Linked DNA regions of Homo sapiens: region 1 is linked to region 2. The links come from fine-mapping of genetic effects on gene expression. A gene starts in region 2. The other region holds a variant in brackets. All regions are shown on one strand. Distances are from middle to middle. Region 1 overlaps TMEM244 (transmembrane protein 244). Region 2 holds the start of TMEM244 (transmembrane protein 244).

Evidence for each region. PIP is the estimated chance that this variant, and not a neighbour inherited with it, causes the effect. A credible set is the group of variants that fine-mapping cannot tell apart.
Region 1: its variant is the best candidate, but not a certain one, in a credible set for the expression of TMEM244 in whole blood (TOPMed, PIP 0.54).

The regions. Positions count from the first base shown.
Region 1 is chr6:129,835,100-129,840,483 of GRCh38, reverse strand. The region is part of intron 3 of TMEM244 (transmembrane protein 244); the gene reads left to right. Among named protein-coding and RNA genes, the nearest start is that of TMEM244, 24 kb to the left of the region's middle. The variant G/C (reference allele first, on the strand shown) is at 2,148.
Region 2 is chr6:129,858,003-129,863,386 of GRCh38, reverse strand. It overlaps TMEM244 (transmembrane protein 244), which reads left to right and starts at 2,072. Exons shown (of 5, transcript NM_001010876.2): 1 at 2,072-2,231. The coding sequence starts at 2,199. LOC105377999 (a long non-coding RNA gene) reads right to left here. Exons shown (of 8, transcript XR_942986.3): 2 at 3,962-4,057.

The DNA of each region.
Region 1 (5,384 bases), 23 kb after region 2:
TCTTCTAGGGTTTTTATGGTGTTAGGTCTTACATTTAAGTCTTTATCCATCTTGAGTTAATTTTTGTTTATGGTGTAGGGAAGCCATCCAGTTTCAGTTTTCTGCATATGGCTAGCCAGTTTTCCCAGCACCATTTATTAAATAGGGAATCCTTTCCCCATTTCTTGTTTTTGTCAGGTTTGTCAAAGATCACATGGTTGTAGATGTGTGGTGTTATTCTTGAGGCCTCTGTTCTGTTCCATTGGTCTATATATCTGTTTTGGTATCAGTACCATGCTGTTTTGGTTACTGTAGCTGTGTAGCATAGTTTGAAGTCAGGTAGCGTGATGCCTCCAGCTTTGTTCTTTTTGCTTAGGATTGTCTTGGCTATGTGGGCTCTTTTTTGGTTCCATATGAACTTTAGAGTAGTTTTTTCCAATTCTGTGAAGAAAGTCATTGGTAGCTTGATGGGGATGGCATTGAATCTATAAATTACTTTGGGCAGTATGGCCATTTTCACGATACTGATTCTTCCTATTCATGAGCATGGAATGTTCTTCCATTTGTTTGTGTCCTCTTTTATTTCATTGAGCAGTGGTTTGTAGTTCTCCTTGAAGAGGTCCTTCACATTCCTTGTAAGTTAGATTCCTAGGTATTTTATTATCTTTGTAGCAATTGTGAATGGGAGTTCACTCATGTTTTGGCTCTCTGTTTGTCTATTATTTGTGTATAGGAATGCTTGTGATTTTTCCATGTTGATTTTGTATCCTGAGACTTTGCTGAAGTTGCTTATCAGCTTAAGGAGACTTTGGGCTGAGACAATGGGGTTTTCTAAATATACAATCATGTCATCTGCAAACAGAGATAATTTGACTTCCTCTTTTCCTAATTGAATACGCTTTATTTCTTTCTCTTGCCTGATTGCCCTGGCCAGAACTTCCAACATTATGTTGAATAGGAGTGCTGAGAGAGGGCATCCTTTTCTTGTGCCAGTTTTCAAAGGGAATGCTTCCAGTTTTTGCCCATTCAGTATGACATTGGCTGTGGGTTTGTCATAAATAGCTCTTTTTATTTTGAGACGCGTTCCATCAATACCTAGTTTATTGAGAGTTTTTAGCATGAAGGGCTATTGAATTTTGTTGAAGGCCTTTTCTGCATCTATTGAGACAATCATGTGGTTTTTGTCATTGGTTCTGTTTACATGATGGATTACGTTTATTGATTTGAATATGTTGAACCAGCCTTGCATCCCAGGGATGAAGCCAGCTTGTTCATGGTGGATAAACTTTTTTATGTGCTGCTGGATTCGGTTTGACAGTATTTTACTGAGGATTTTTGCGTTGATGTTCATCAGAAATATTGGCTTGAAGTTCTCCTTTTCTGTTGTGTCTCTACCAGGCTTTGGTATCAGGATGATGCTAGCCTCATGAAATGAGTTAGGGAGGATTCTCTCTTTTCTATTGATTGGAATACTTTCAGAAGGAATGGTACCAGCTCCTCTTTGTACCTCTGGTAGAATTTGGCTATGAATCCATCTGGTCATGGACTTTTTTTGGTTGATAGGCCATTAATTATTTCCTCTATTTCAGAACCTGTTATTGGTCTATTCAGAGATTCAGCTTCTTCCTGATTTAGTCTTGGGAGGGTGTATGTGTCCAGGAATTTATCCATTTCTTCTAGATTTTCTAGTTTATTTGCACAGAGGTGTTTATAATATTCTCTGATGGTAGTTTGTATTTCTGTGGGATCGGTGGTGATATCCCCCTTATCATTTTTTATTGCATCTATTTGATTCTTCTCTCTTTTCTTCTTTATTAGTCTTGCTAGTGGTCTATTTTGTTGATCTTCTCAAAAAACCAGCTCCTGGATTCACTGATTTTTTTGAAGGGTTTTTGTGTCTCCATCTCCTTCAGTTCTGCTCTGATCTTGGTTATTTCTTGCCTTCTGCTAGCTTTTGAATTTTTTTGCTCTTGCTTCTCTATTGTTAATTGTGATGTTAGGGTGTCAATTTTAGCTCTTTCCTGCTTTCTCTTGTGGGCATTTAGTGCTATAAATTTCCCTCTACATACTGCTTTAAATGTGTCCCAGAGATTCTGATACATTGTGTCTTTGTTCTCATTGGTTTCAAAGAACATCTTTATTTCTGCCTTCATTTTGTTATGTACCCA[G/C]TAGTCATTCAGGAGCAGGTTGTTCAGTTTCCATGTAGTTGTGAGGTTTTGAGTGAGTTTCTTAATCCTGAGTTCTAATTTGATTGCACTGTGATCTGAGAGATCAGTCTGAGAGACAGTTTGTTGTGATTTCTGTTCTTTTACATTTGCTGAGGAGTGTTTTACTACCAATTATGTGGTGAATTTTAGAGTAAGTGCGATGTGGTGCTGAGAAGAATGTATATTCCATTGATTTGGGGTGTAGAATTCGGTAGATGTCTATTAGGTCTGCCTGGTGCAGAGCTGAGTTCAAATCCTGGATATCCTTGTTAACCTTCTGTCTTGTTGATCTGTCTAATATTGACAGTGGGGTGTTAAAGTCTACCATTATTATTGTGTGGGAGTCTAAGTCTCTTTGTAGGTCCCTAAGGACTTGCTTTATTAATCCGAATGCTCCTATATTGTGTGCATATATATTTAGGATGGTTAGCTCTTCTTGTTGAATTGATCCCTTTAGCATTATGTAGTGGCCTTCTTTGTCTCTTTTGATCTTTGTTGGTTTAAAGTCTGTTGTATCAGAGACTAAGATTGTAACCCGCTTTTTTTGCTTTCCATTTGCTTGGTAGATCTTCCTCCATCCCTTTATTTTGAGCCTATGTGCGTCTTTGCACATGAGATGGGTCTCTTGAATACAGCACACTGATGGATCTTGACTCTTTATCCAATTTGCCAGTCTGTATATTTTAATTGGGGCATTTAGCCCATTTACATTTAAGGTTAATACTGTTATGTTTGAATTTAATCCTGTCATTATTATGTTAGCTGGTTATTTTGCCTGTTAATTGATGCAGTTTCTTCATAGCGTCTAAAGTCTTTACCATTTGGCATGTTTTTGCAGTGGCTAGTACCTGTTGTTCCTTTCCATGTTTAGTGCTTCCTTCAGTACCTCTTGTAAGGCAGGCCTGGTGGTGACAAAATCTCTCAGCATTTGCTTCTCTGTAAAGGATTTTAATTCTCCTTCACTTATGAAGCTTAGTTTGACTGGATATGAAATTCTGGGTTGAAAATTCTTTTCTTTAAGAATGTTGAATATTGGCCCCCACTCTTTTCTGGTTTGTAGGGTTTCTGCCAAGAGATCCACTGTTAGTCTGATGGGCTTCCCTTTGTGGGTAACCCAACCTTTCTCTCTGGCTGCCCTTAACATTTTTTCCCTCATTTCAACCTTGGCGAATCTGACAATTATATGTCTTCGAATTGCTCTTCTCGAAGAGTATCTTTGTGGTGTCTCTCTATTTTCTGAATTTGAATGTTGGCCTGCCTTGCTAGGTTAGGGAAGTTCTCCTGGATGATATCCTGAAGAGTGTTTTCTAACTTGGTTCCATTCTCCTATCACTTTCAGGTACACCCACCAAATGTATATTTGGTCTTTTCACACAGTCCTATATTTCTTGGAGGCTTTGTTCATTTCTTTTCACTCTTTTTTCTCTAATCTTGTCTTCTCACTTTATTTCATTAATTTGATCTTCAGTCACTGATATCCTTTCTTCCACTTGATGGAATTACCTATTAAAGCTTATGCATGCATCACAAAGTTCTCATTCCATGGTTTTCAGCTCCATCAGGTCATTTAACATCATCTCCACACTGTTTATTCTAGTTAGCCATTCATCTAATCTTTTTTCAAGGTTTTTAGCTTCCTTGCAATGGGTTAGAAGATGCTCCTTTATCTCAGAGAAGTTTGTTATTACCAAGTAGGTTTCTGAAGCCTACTTCTGTCAACTCGTCAAACTCATTCTCCACCCAGTTTTGTTCCCTCACTGGCGAGGAGCTGTGATCCTTTGGAGGAGAAGAGGTGCTCTGTTTTTTAAAATTTTCAGCTTTTCTTCTCTGGTTTCTCCCCATCTTTGTGGTTTTATCTACCTTTGGTCTTTGATGTTGGTGACCTACAGATGGGGTTTTGAGGTGGATGTCCTTTTTGTTGATCTTGTTGCTATTTTTTTCTGTTTGTTAGTTTTCCCTCTAACAGTCAGACCCCTCAGCTGCAGATCTGTTGGGGTTTGCTGGAGGTCCACTCCAGACCCTGTTTGCCTAGGTATCACCAGTGGAGGCTGCAGAACAGCAAATATTGCTGCCTGATCCTTCCTCTGGAAGCTTCGTCCCAGAGGGGCACCTGCCTGTTTGAGGTGTCTGTCGGCCCCTACTGGGAGGTGTTTCCCAGTCAGGCTACACGGGGGTCAGGGACTCATTTGAGGAGGCAGTCTGTCTGTTCTCGGAGCTCGAATGCCATGCTGAGAGAACAACTGCTCTCTTCAGAGCTGTCAGACGGGACGTTTAAATCTGCAGAAGCTGACTGCTGCCTTTTGTTCTACTATGCCCTACCCCAAGAGGTAGAATCTATAGAGGCAGTAGGCCTTGCTGAGCTGTGGTGTGCTCCACCCAGTTCGTGCTTCCAGGCCTCTTTGTTTACACTGTGAGCTACTCAAGCCTCAGCAATGCAGACGCCCATCTCCACATCAAGATGCAGCGTCGCAGGTCTATCTCAGACTGCTGCACTAGCAGTGAGCAAGGCTCCGTGGGTGTGGGACCTGCCGAACCAGGCATGGGAGGGTATCTCCTGGTCTGACGGTTGCTAAGACTATGGGAATAGTGCAGTATTTTGTCAGGAGTGCACTGTTTCTCCACATACAGTCTGTCATGGCTTCCCTTAGCTAGGAAAGGGAAATCGCCCCACCCCTTGTGCTTCCCGGGTGAGGCAACACCCTGCCCTGCTTCAGCTTGCCCTCCATGGGCTGCACCCACTGTCCAACCAGTCCCAATGAGATGAACCAGGTACCTTAATTGGAAATGCAGAAATCACCCATCTTCTGCGTCGATCTCACTGGGAGCTGCAAACCAGAGCTGTTCCTATTCAGCCATCTTGGAAGTGACTCCATAACTCTTTTTTTTTTTTTTTAAGAGACAGAGATTCACTCTGTCACCCAGTCTCGAGTGCAGTGCAGTGGCATGATCATAGCTCATTGTAACTTCAAACTCCTGCACTCAAGAGATCCTCCCATCTCCACCTCCTGAGTAGCTAGGACTATGGAGCACACTATTATGCCAGGCTAAGTTTTTTTCAATTTCTTTTAGAGACAGAGTCTTGCTATATTGCCCAGTGTGGCCTTGAACTCCTAGCTTCAAGTGATGCTCCCACCTCGGCCTCCCAAAGTGCTGGAATTACAGGTGTGAACCACAGTGCCCAGACAAGGTCTTATGACT
Region 2 (5,384 bases):
GGAGCTGTTACAATGTTACCAGCAGGCAGAAAAGTCTTTTTCTGCAAGAACTCACAATATAAGCAGAGAACAGGGCAACCACACATTAAAAGATTTATCTAAGGTATATTAATAAAAGAGCATTGACAGTGTTATTAATATGCATTATGAATGTCAAATTCAATAACATATTCAGATGAAAACTATCAAGGCCTGGACTTGCTGAAGGCACTCTTTTCACCTTTGCTTTTGGTATGCAGGTAGATATTGCAGAATGTGCTCTTTATAGCGGTTAACAAGATGCTGTAATGGAAAAAGGATTACAGGGCACAGCTAAGTTCCCATCTAAAGTTGGTGCCACAGCAAAGCAATCAATCAACAAAGTGAAGACACCAACCCGCAGAATGGGAAAAAAAATACTCAAACACTACCCATCTGACAAGGGGCTAACAACCAGAATATATAAGGAGCTCAAACAACTGTAGAGGAAAAAATCTAATAATATGATTTAAAAATGATCAAAATATCTGAATAGACATTTCTCAGAACAAGACATACAAATGGCAAACTGGTATGTGAGAAGTGCTCAACATCATCGATCATCAGAGAAAGGCAAATCAAAACTACAAAGAGATATGACTTCACCCCAGTTAAAATGGCTTTTATCCCAAAACAGGCAATAACAAATGCTGGTGAGGATGTGAAGAAAAGGACACCCTCATACACTGCTGGTGGGAATGTAAATTAGTACAGCCACTATGGAGAACAGTTTGGAGGTTCCTCAAAAGAGAAAAATAGGACTGCCATATGATCCAGCAATCCCACTGCTGAGCATATACCCCAAAGAATGGAAATCAGTCTATCGGAGAGGTATCTGCATGCCCATGTATATTGCAGCATGTTTCACAATATCCAAGATTAAGAAACAACCTAAATGTCCATCAACAGACAAGTGGATAAAGAAATGTGGTACAGGTACAGAATAGAATTCAGCCAAAGGAAAGAATGAAATCCTGTCATTTGCAACAATATGGATGGAACTGGAGGTCCTTATGTTAAGTGAAATAAACCAGGCACAGAAAGACAAACTTCATATGTTCCTACTTATTTGTGGGAACTAAAAATGGAAACAATTGAACTCATTGAGATGGAAAGTAAAAGAATGGTTACCAGAAGCTGGGAAGGGTAGTGGGAGAAAAGGGGGAGTGTGGGGATGGTTAATGCATACAAAAAAGAGAGAGAATGTATAAGATCTAGTATTTGATAGCACAACAGAGTGACTATAGTCAATAATAATTTAATTGTACATTTAAAAATAACTAAAAGGGTATAATTGGATTGCTTGTAACACAAAGAATAAATGCTTGAGGTGATGGAAATCCCACTTACCTTGATGTGATCATTACATATTAGATGCCTATATCAAAATATATCATGTACCCCATAAACTCTATGGGGTATATTACTATATTACTATGTAATCACAGCAATTAAAAATTAAAATAAAAATAATAATAGAGTTGGTGCCAGTAAAAAGATGGGAGAATGAATTGTAAATGAAGGATTGGTTCTGGAGCCTCAGGACGCAGAGAGACAGAGCTCCAATACTGCCTCCTGGCAGTTCTTGAAAACATTCTACCCACAATATTGTGGCCATTATTTTAGAGTATGGGAACCCTTTTGTTTCCTAACAAAAAGTCATAAGTTTTACATTTCTTTGCCATGATGTGAAAGGAACTGATGATTTCTTTCTCAGAACTCTGTGGCCCTTGTGAGTGAAACAGAGAGGACAGGCCACGCTTCAACATGAATGCAGCAGCATCCTTTGGAAACAATCTCAAGACCTAACTGAAAACCCATGTTTCTAATTTAAGTATGAGACAGTAATTACTCATACAGCCAGAGAGGATTCCAAGTCCCTGCCTATTTGCCGCACTATCTAAAAACAATCAACTCATCTTTCAAATCTGACCAAACTACAAATGGTATGAGAACTCCATCGTTTAATAAGGATGTTCATTTTGGCACTTAGCAGCTTACGCGTGGCTCACAGATGGCATCTGTCTCGTTTTGCGTAATCCAATCATCCTGCACTACTGCGTCTCACACTTAGTCTCCAGGAGTAATTGAAAAGCTCACGGTGACAATTGTGTCTTCTTCCAGATGTCATCGCTATAAGGAGTGGGGCTTTCATCACCTCCTTGACGTAGGATGTGTACATGGCTCTCCAGGTCAGAGTTGCTCCAAGCAAGGTAAAGAGAAATTACTTCTTTGCATTGCCTTTCAGTTGCTGCCTAGCACTGGTGTAAATGAATATGTTCTATAAATGGCCTCTCTGTCAGTGGGCAACTTGTTTCACTTTTGGCTGGGTACCATACAGAAAACATTCTGCTGCACGGCTTGCATCTTGTGGTAATAGGGCAATATAAAGGCACCCATGCCCAAGAAAGGATTCTAAAACATGTAAATAGTCGCTGTTTAGAAGGCACCATTTTATTCGGAGGTAAGCTCTCTGGTATTAGCACCTGCACGTCTGCTATCGTTTTCTGAAATCATGACAGTTTGTTCTCAATCTTTTTTTCTTTTTTTTTTTTGCAGGGAGTGGCTTTTATTTTTGTAACTTCTAAAGGGTGCGCAAAATTTTAAATGCAAAGTGTTGAAACATTTCAAGCTGTAGGTTTGTTAGTTTCTTTTTCCCCCGAGGCTAGTGTTAATAGTTGTGTTTTACTTCAGTGCAAAAATACCCCTTTAAAAAAAAATCAAACAATCGAAAACAAGGAAATATGCAAAGCCTCAAAGCAGCTGTGTAAATTCATACAGGCTTTAGGCCTATAATGAGCCAGACTTAAGGGAATGATAGTGGAAAATCAGATTTTTACTTAAAAATTAAATTACAATTATGAGTGAGTGCTACATTCATTTTAGTAAAATATCAGCACCGTGTGTATTTCCTCAAGCTTTTTCTTTACACTACCATCATCACCACATATGTCATCAGTGAGAAATGTTGAGCATGACAACAGCTAAGAAAAATTTTCAAGGTCAGTAAAACATTATTTCAGGAAAAATATTTTTAAAAAGCTTATTTTTAAGGGGTTATTAAACTTCGTAATTTATGTATAGATTTGGGATTGAACTAGCAATAATAACTTCTGCTGAAGAGATAAAAATTAGAAGATAAAATCCTTTCTCTTAAGTAGCTTACACAAAGAATGGGGGCTCTATATTTAGTCGGGGCTTACACAGACCAGACAGACAGACACACACACACACACACACACACACACACACACACACACACACGCATTGCAGAGAAAATATCCAGATAGTTGCTGCAGTTCCTCACTATCTTAGAATCATCTGAGCTTCAAGTGTAGAATTAGAGCCTTAGAACATTAGAAGAATAGTGAATATGTTCAAAATAGATAGGTTGTTGACTATCTGAATTCTCATGATACATCCCTATAAGTTATGAGTTAACTTTTCTTTTAAGTGCTTGTTCACTGTCAATATTATCAGCACAAGAATTACTGATATGCTTATAAATTAATAGTAATAGCAAAAGTGACCTTCATCTAGAGATAACTCGAATACTCAACAAACATTTATTGAGTGCATGCAATGTGCCAGGCATTGGGCTAATTAAATCCCCCCTATCTGTACACTTTAAATGACAGAAAAGCTGACTCAAGGGAAAGAGTCATGGCCAAAGGCCATTTAATTAATTTGCTGTCTGGGAAAATAGCACAAGAACTGGGAAGAAAGCCCAAGTATGAGGACTGCTAAACTGTTCAGAATACAATGTATTCTACTCCAGTAGACGGCATGTTTCCTAACTATGTTAAACTAATGTAAACTTTCCTCTGTAAAACAAATGTTGTAAAAATCTCAGAAGCACAACACATTCCTGCATATCCTCAGAGTTGTTCACCTGAACTGGAGAATTTCATTCATTCAGGCAATTTCAGAGGGAACTACTTACCAGTAGGACGGAGCCTTTGCTGTGATTCTACAAGTGAGAGAGTCATATCTCATGATTTCTCCAGGAATTGTCCAAAGAACTACAATGCAGTCTTTCCTATGGGGAGAAGTAAGAGAGAAAGTATTATCTATTGGGAACATACAGTACTTAATGTTAAGAATTGTATACATGTTCAGAATACAAATCCCTTATGAAACTTTACCTGTAGATGAGTAGAACAAAACTCAGAAAGTAACCAGCCAATGTCACACACTTGTCAGTGATGAACTGGGGGAGAAACTCCAGTGGATCTGACTTAGAGTCCACATACTTTATTAATAGACTATGGTTCCGGCCAGGCGTGGTGGCTCATGCCTGTAATCCCAGCACTTTAGGAGGCCAAACCGGACGATCACTTTAGGTCAGGAGTTCGATACCAGCCTGGTAAACATGGTGAAACCCCATCTCTACTAAAAATACAAAAATTAGCTGGGTGTGGTGGTGCACACCTGTAGTCCCAGCTACTCAGGGAGGCTGAGGCAAGAGAATTCCTTGAAGCCGGGAGGCAGAGGTTACAGTGAGCTGAGATTGTGTCACTGTACTCCAGCCTGGGTGACAGAGCAAGACTCTGTTTCAAAAAAAAAAAAGACTATGGTTCCTACTATAGTGGTCTTGTCTTCCATTATTTCTTTCCTTCCTTCCATGATTATTATTCAAAATATATTTATTGAATACCTATGAAAGCCTGACCAATATTTTGGGGGCTGAAGAATTAAATGTGGTCAAATCAGTGTCTGTCTTTTAGAGACTGGAGAAAGAAATGTATACCTCCAAAAGTAGGTATGCTACAATACAAATTTGATGAGATCTATAAGACAAATATAATATTATGGAAGCAATTAAAATAAGATAGAGATTGATTCTGTCCTGCAGTGAGGGGTGGAGTGAGAAGATGATATATGAGCCAGACCTAGAGAATATAGCTACTTGCTCTGTAAAGAAGAGTGAAGCTACTGTAGGCAATGGGAACATTCTGCTTTGCAAAATCACACAAGGGCTTCCAGTTTCCATAGACTAAATGGAGAAGGCTATTACAGAAGGACTAGGCCTAGATTTCACAAAAGAATTCTCCTAAGTCTTCAAAGATCATATACTCCCAATGCTACTTAAATCATTTGAGTATAGAAAAACAAGAAAAGCCACAAGAAAGTTTTATGAAACAAGAAATATGTTGTCACCTAAACCATATAAATATAGTACAAAAAATAAACTATAGATCAATCTCACTTATGAATACAGAAAAATCTAAACATATTAGCAAACAGAACCCAAGAACTCGTCATAAAAATAAAACATCATGACCAAGTGACATTTATTCCAAAAATGTACGGATGGTTCAATATTAGGTAATCTACTAACATAATTTAGATGTTCATATATCTAA